2 separate regions of the Homo sapiens genome follow, and region 2 is linked to region 1. The links come from fine-mapping of genetic effects on plasma protein levels. A gene starts in region 1. The other region holds a variant in brackets. All regions are shown on one strand. Distances are from middle to middle.

Region 1 (2,919 bases):
AAAGATGATATTTTGAACCTTTTCTGAATTCTGTACCTATTACTGTGTCACTTCAGAATCTAGAGAGGGAAGGATGTGAATAGTTAGCATTTACAAACTCATTCATGATATACCCTCCATTATCTGGCTCTTGTTGCTACTTGCATATCATCTAGTGTCTTTACCTTTCAACATCAAGAAGCCCTGGCCCCTGATCACTAAGCAGGCTGTAATCCAGTCATTCCAAACTACCTGTGGTTCCTTGAATAAGTAATGCTGTTTCACTTGTCTGCATATGCATAGCAAAATCTTTTCCTATTCTGATTCTCCACTTAACTCATCCTAAACCCCTGCTCAAGTATCATCATTGCTGTGAAGTCTTCTCTGATTAGCTCCAAACATAGTAACCATTTCCTCCAAGGTTTCATTTCTTTTTCTTATTTTAGAGATGTGATCTCACTCTGTCACTCAGGCTGAGGTTCAGTGGCCTGATCATAGTTCACTGCAGCCTCAAACTCCTGGGCTCAAGCTATCCTCCCAGTTCGGCCTCCCAAAGTGCTGGGATTACAGATATGAGCCACCTCGCCTGGCCTCCAAAGTTTGTTATACTTTTCTCTCTTAACAGTGGTTTCCACATGTTATTGCAATTACTAGACCATATATTTTTACAGTGCAAAACTATCCCTTGTTCCTTCATGTACTGCCTCCACCCATCACATTGCCTGGCATTCATGAGTGCTAAAAACTTTTCATTGAATACAATACTAAGTAAATGAAGAAATGTGGGATTAAAAATGAATGCCTACAATGAACCAAGCTTTCTGCTGAGTTACCTGAATATTACAAAGAAGCAAAAATTATTACTGTAGAGGAACAATTACCCTGCTTGGAATGCAGAGATTATGTCAGCATACAAAATTGATTGCTTGATCAATCTGGAGTAGAATAGCTCATGAAGCATAGCTATACTTAATAATATAGCAAAGCAGAGGGGCCTGAGAGGGTCTTACTGCTTAATCTCTGTCCATCATGTCTTAGACCTACAGACAACTTGAGTTCAATGATTATGATGCCCCTCACCTCAGGGATCTGTTTCCATCCAGCTTCCAAAGATGGGCATACACCAGCACAAGCATAGAAAAATAACAAATCTGTATATTGGACCCTCTGCTTAGCAGTGAGAAAGCAGGTTTGAAGACAATAAAGCCAGGCCTGTATGTGGAGATTGGCACCATGACCCTGGATTATGTTTTATGGGATATGCCTCCAAGGGCAACTCTGCATTTATCCCATGGCCTCTGGCTTCCAAATTTTCTAGGCACTTCCCTCTGGGGTAAAGGAATCAAAATTGGCTTATTTCCCTTGCAAACCATCCTTGGCGACTAAGTACTGCCTTGTCTTCTACTGAGAGATGGCCATATTTTTGGCACCTGCCTTTCCTTGTGGGAGGTGTTTCCTCTGTTTACATAGCAAAGGGGCTGTAGGAGAGACAGACGGAGCTGGACTTACAGCAGAACCAAGTCATGATAGCCTGTTTCTATTTTGTTTTCAGCATTTTTCCGCCAGTTCTGGCCACCTCCTTTCCTCTGGAACATGCTGATTTCAGCAAGTCCAGCTCTGTCAGCTCTGCCCCCCGAGTCTATTGGTTTCTGATCATCTGATAATGCTTTGCCTGCACTCAGGACCTGTCTTTGTCCCTCCTCTTAACATACTTGCAGCTAAAACTAAATATTGCTGCTTGGGGACCTCCTTCTAGCCTTAAATTTCAGCTCATCACCTTCACCTGCCTTGGTCATGGCTCTGCTATTCTCCTTGATCCTTGGTGAGTATCTCTGCACCTGTTGGTTTAGGCTTCAGAGTTTTCTGGCACTTTGATTAGGAGAACTTTCTCCCCGCCAACCTGGAACAGATTTAGATGTTTTTCAAGGATGAGCTTCTTCCTCCTTTTTACATTTGGTAACTATTCTAATCCTTAAAAAGCCGCTTAATCCATACACATTTGTAATTCACTTTAACAGATTTTTTTCTATTTTCTTATATTTGTAATGACAGAGTCATGATAGTTTATCCCATTTCTCTTTTTACATAAGTGTTCCTAAATGTACTATTAGTAAGAAGACAAATGAATGGGCACCGGGCAGCAGCAAGTAGAGCCAGGAAAGGAAGTAGAACTGCAAGACAATCACCTTTCATTGATCATATTGTCTGGTTTCCTCTGAAAAGTGTTTCATATAATGTTTTTCTAGTTTTCTTCAGTTTCTCATTGCTTAGAGTAATCTAGAGATTAACCTAGTTAATCTGGTGATTGTGGAGCCAAGGAGACCTGGATTTCAATCCTGCCGTTTTGATTTCTTAGCGGTGTGAATTCGTAGGTTACCATACCTCTCTGAAATTTTGCTCTCTCATCTATGAAGTGAGGATAATATTATGTTCCTCAGAGGTTTTTAGGAGTATTTTTTTTTATAAGATAACTAATATAAAGCATCTAACAATGCCTGGTAAATCCCTATGCTAATCAATCACATCCACTTTTATGTCTTGATGATCTAGTACATCACCAAAGCCCACACAATCCTCTCAACTGGACACTTTTGTGTTCAATGTAAGGTACTGACCACATCTTAAACATCCATGCATCCCCCACATCACTCAACGGCTAGTCCTGCCCCTCATGGATATACTACTGGGTCTTCCAGGCTCATGTGCACTTCCACCTGCTTCATGAAGCCTTTCTGGCCTGTGCCTTCTGCAGTTACCCACCCTACTGCAGAGCTTCCAAGTCACTTACTGGCTATATCACGTTTGCACCTGCATATCAGGCTTGCCATGCTCACTTTCCTTCACATGTACACATGTTGGGTTGGGGTTATGCAATGATTCCCATATGTATAATATAACCTTGAGTTTTGGATAGTTGCAGAAAAGGCCTCATTGAGCCTG
Region 2 (2,919 bases), 10 kb after region 1:
CTGTGGGAAGTCCCTCTCTCCCTCCTTCAGAGACCGGAAATGCTATGGCCCTGGGGTTGGCCGCATCTGGCTGGATAATGTTCGTTGCTCAGGGGAGGAGCAGTCCCTGGAGCAGTGCCAGCACAGATTTTGGGGGTTTCACGACTGCACCCACCAGGAAGATGTGGCTGTCATCTGCTCAGGTGAGTCCTACAGATGGAGTTCATAAGGGCTGGCAAGGAGGATGATAAAGGAAGAGGAAATGATGGGGGTGTACTCTGGGGAAAAGGGTATTTTCACAAGCGCCATGAAGCTGCTCATAGTCATCACCTGCTCTGTACTTCCAGGGATATGGCTGGAAGTCCAGGCCCTGTGGTAGGTTTTATTCCTGGGGCTGGTGGGTAGAGGTAGGGCTGACACTATATACGTATTGATCGTGAGAACATACAGGTATTGAATGTAAAAACAAGAGGCGTTCTGAAAATTATTTCACCAACATTTTTATATTAAACATAGTAAACATAAAGTGAGAGTCGGAGAAAATAAGCAACCTTCAAAAGCATTAAAATTGCTTTCAAATCATATAGCAGAACCATAATAAACCATCTTTACTCTCAACCCAAGGTTATTCTCTTGGATGACCCTAACCTTGAAACTCTAAGTTAAACTATCAAAGAGGGTTCTACCTCATTCCATTTGTCATCACTCCTAGATTTTAAACTAGTCTGGGAGAGTGGGACTACAGTAGGGAGCTTTTTGAGAATGCCCATAAGAGAGTTATCAGAGAGACCACAATACCAGCCCTGAACTGTAGAACTCTTCAGAGGATTGAAGGAAGAAGCCCTTTCCCAATTTGGGTTAGAAAATGCAAGTGCAGCCGCTGCGTGGCTGACTCAAAAAAGCCACCCGTCTGAAGCCCCATTGTGTAATCAATGTGGGGCTACTTGGTTAAACCACTAACTCTGGAACTAGATAAGAACTGATAGTTGACCAAGGTATGTGGGAAGCAGTTAGTGCCCAGAGAAGAATAAATACAGCTGCAGGAGGCTAGGGTTTGAGCCAGGCTGCTGCTACTTTGAAGCTGTGTAATGTTAGTCACTTAACTCCTCAGAACCTAAGTGTTTCCATGGGTAGAAATAGAAAGACACTTGTCCGGTTTACCTCAAAGACTTTGTGATTGTGTGAGGATAAGATATGTTGATAGATGTCAGTACTGTTTGTGACTCACATGGAGCTAGTTGAGTAAGTCCCTGGGATACTGCACAAGGTTCTGGCCTGGCTCACATCAGTGTGGGATCTGTACATGGCTTAGCTCTTTTTCCTATGTTGAGCCCCAGTCTTCTCCCTTAGCTAATGTGAGTTTCAACTGAATAATTCCTTCCTGGACTATACCCATCCTTACTGCATTTTCCTCTTCTCTTTATAGGATAGTATCCTGGTGTTGCTTGACCTGGCCCCCCTGGCCCCGCCTGCCCTCTGCTTGTTCTCCTGAGCCCTGATTATCCTCATACTCATTCTGGGGCTCAGGCTTGAGCCACTACTCCCTCATCCCCTCAGGAGTCTGAACACTGGGCTTATGCCTTACTCTCAGGGACAAGCAGCCCCC[A/T]TTGCTGCCTGTAGATGTGAGCTGTTGAGTTCCCTCTTGCTGGGGAAGATGAGCTTCCATGTATCCTGTGCTCAACCCTGACCCTTTGACACTGGTTCTGGCCTTTCCTGCCTTTTCTCAAGCTGCCTGGAATCCTCAAACCTGTCACTTTGGTCAGATGTGCAGACCATTACTAAGGTCTATGTCTGCAAACATTACTAATCTAGGTCCTATTACTAATCTATGTCTGCAAACATTAAAGGAATGAAACAATGAAAGGAACATTTGAAAGAAAATGTGGGTAGACAATTTCTTGCAACTTGGGGGAAAGTTTAGAATTCTTTTGATTGGACTACTTTTTTTTTTTTTCCTCAAGCTTCAGGTGACCACAATAGCAACACCTCCCTATTCTGTTATTTCTTAGTGTAGGTAGACAATTCTTTCAGGAGCAGAGCAGCGTCCTATAATCCTAGACCTTTTCATGACGTGTAAAAAATGATGTTTCATCCTCTGATTGCCCCAATAAAAATCTTTGTTGTCCATCCCTATACAACCTGCCAACATGGTTGACATTTAATGAGAGGAATGTCAAAAATACATTTTACTTTATTCAAAGAAAAATATATTGGTTACTGGGAAAAGGTCAAGAAAGAGGCAGAAAGAGATCAGGGAGGGCTAAAGTTGTGTCTTATGCCAAGCGAAAGTGAAAAATATCATTTTCACTTTATCAACTGAGACTTTGGGGCCTGTAAGCTTGAGGCAAGACAGAAATAAGAGAATCAAGACTTGATTGTAAAAATTGACAACTTTAGATTCTGAGGCTAGGCTGAGTACTTATTATACGGCTACATTTACACATTTACACTTATCTAATAAATCAGATTTCACAGTCTCAACAATTGCCTCTCTGTGTGATATGCTCTTTCTGCCCACAGAGAAGCAGCTGTGTCAGATTCTCTATGGCAGTTTCTTAAACAGGGTTAGGTAGAAGAGAACCTTCCAGTTACAACCATATGTGTAAAAAGCTGTCCTCTGGGTGTGCAACTGTCTCCCAGTCTATTTCTGCTCCAACCTGTGTACCCAAAGACAGTTCTGCTGCTCCTGGACTTCAGGCTAACACACTTCTGATAGGCCAACTCTAATGCCATGCCTTTCTAATCTGACATTTTTTTGCTTTCCTTCTAACCAGTGTGTTTATGTTTCTAACCCAGAACCACACTGGTCTCTGGCTCCTTACTCAATTAATTCTGTCAAAACAGTTCAATCATCAGGGAAAGACAGAGAGTGGGAGGAGGGGTGCAGTGGGACAGGAGGAGAGTGGGAGGGAGAGAGCCCACCACTCGGCTGGGAGTCCG

Direction of the effects. Positions count from the first base shown, and alleles are read on the strand shown. Strength reflects both the effect of a copy and how common the allele is.
In carriers of allele A in region 2, the plasma level of the protein whose gene starts at base 1,667 in region 1 tends to be higher than with T alone (weak association).

Evidence for each region. A credible set is the group of variants that fine-mapping cannot tell apart. PIP is the posterior inclusion probability: the model's chance that the variant is causal. The UK Biobank Pharma Proteomics Project read protein levels with antibody pairs (Olink). The fine-mapping took linkage between variants from a reference panel, not from the people measured, so its PIPs are less certain.
Region 2: its variant is the best candidate, but not a certain one, in a credible set for the plasma level of the CD5L protein (UK Biobank, PIP 0.57).

Annotation. Positions count from the first base shown.
Region 1 is chr1:157,840,556-157,843,474 of GRCh38, reverse strand. CD5L (CD5 molecule like) reads left to right here and starts at 1,667. Exons shown (of 6, transcript NM_005894.3): 1 at 1,667-1,801. The coding sequence starts at 1,774.
Region 2 is chr1:157,830,455-157,833,373 of GRCh38, reverse strand. It overlaps CD5L (CD5 molecule like), which reads left to right. Exons shown (of 6, transcript NM_005894.3): 5 at 1-182; 6 at 1,406-2,463. The coding sequence ends at 1,410. Among named protein-coding and RNA genes, the nearest start is that of CD5L, 9.9 kb to the left of the region's middle. The variant A/T (reference allele first, on the strand shown) is at 1,586.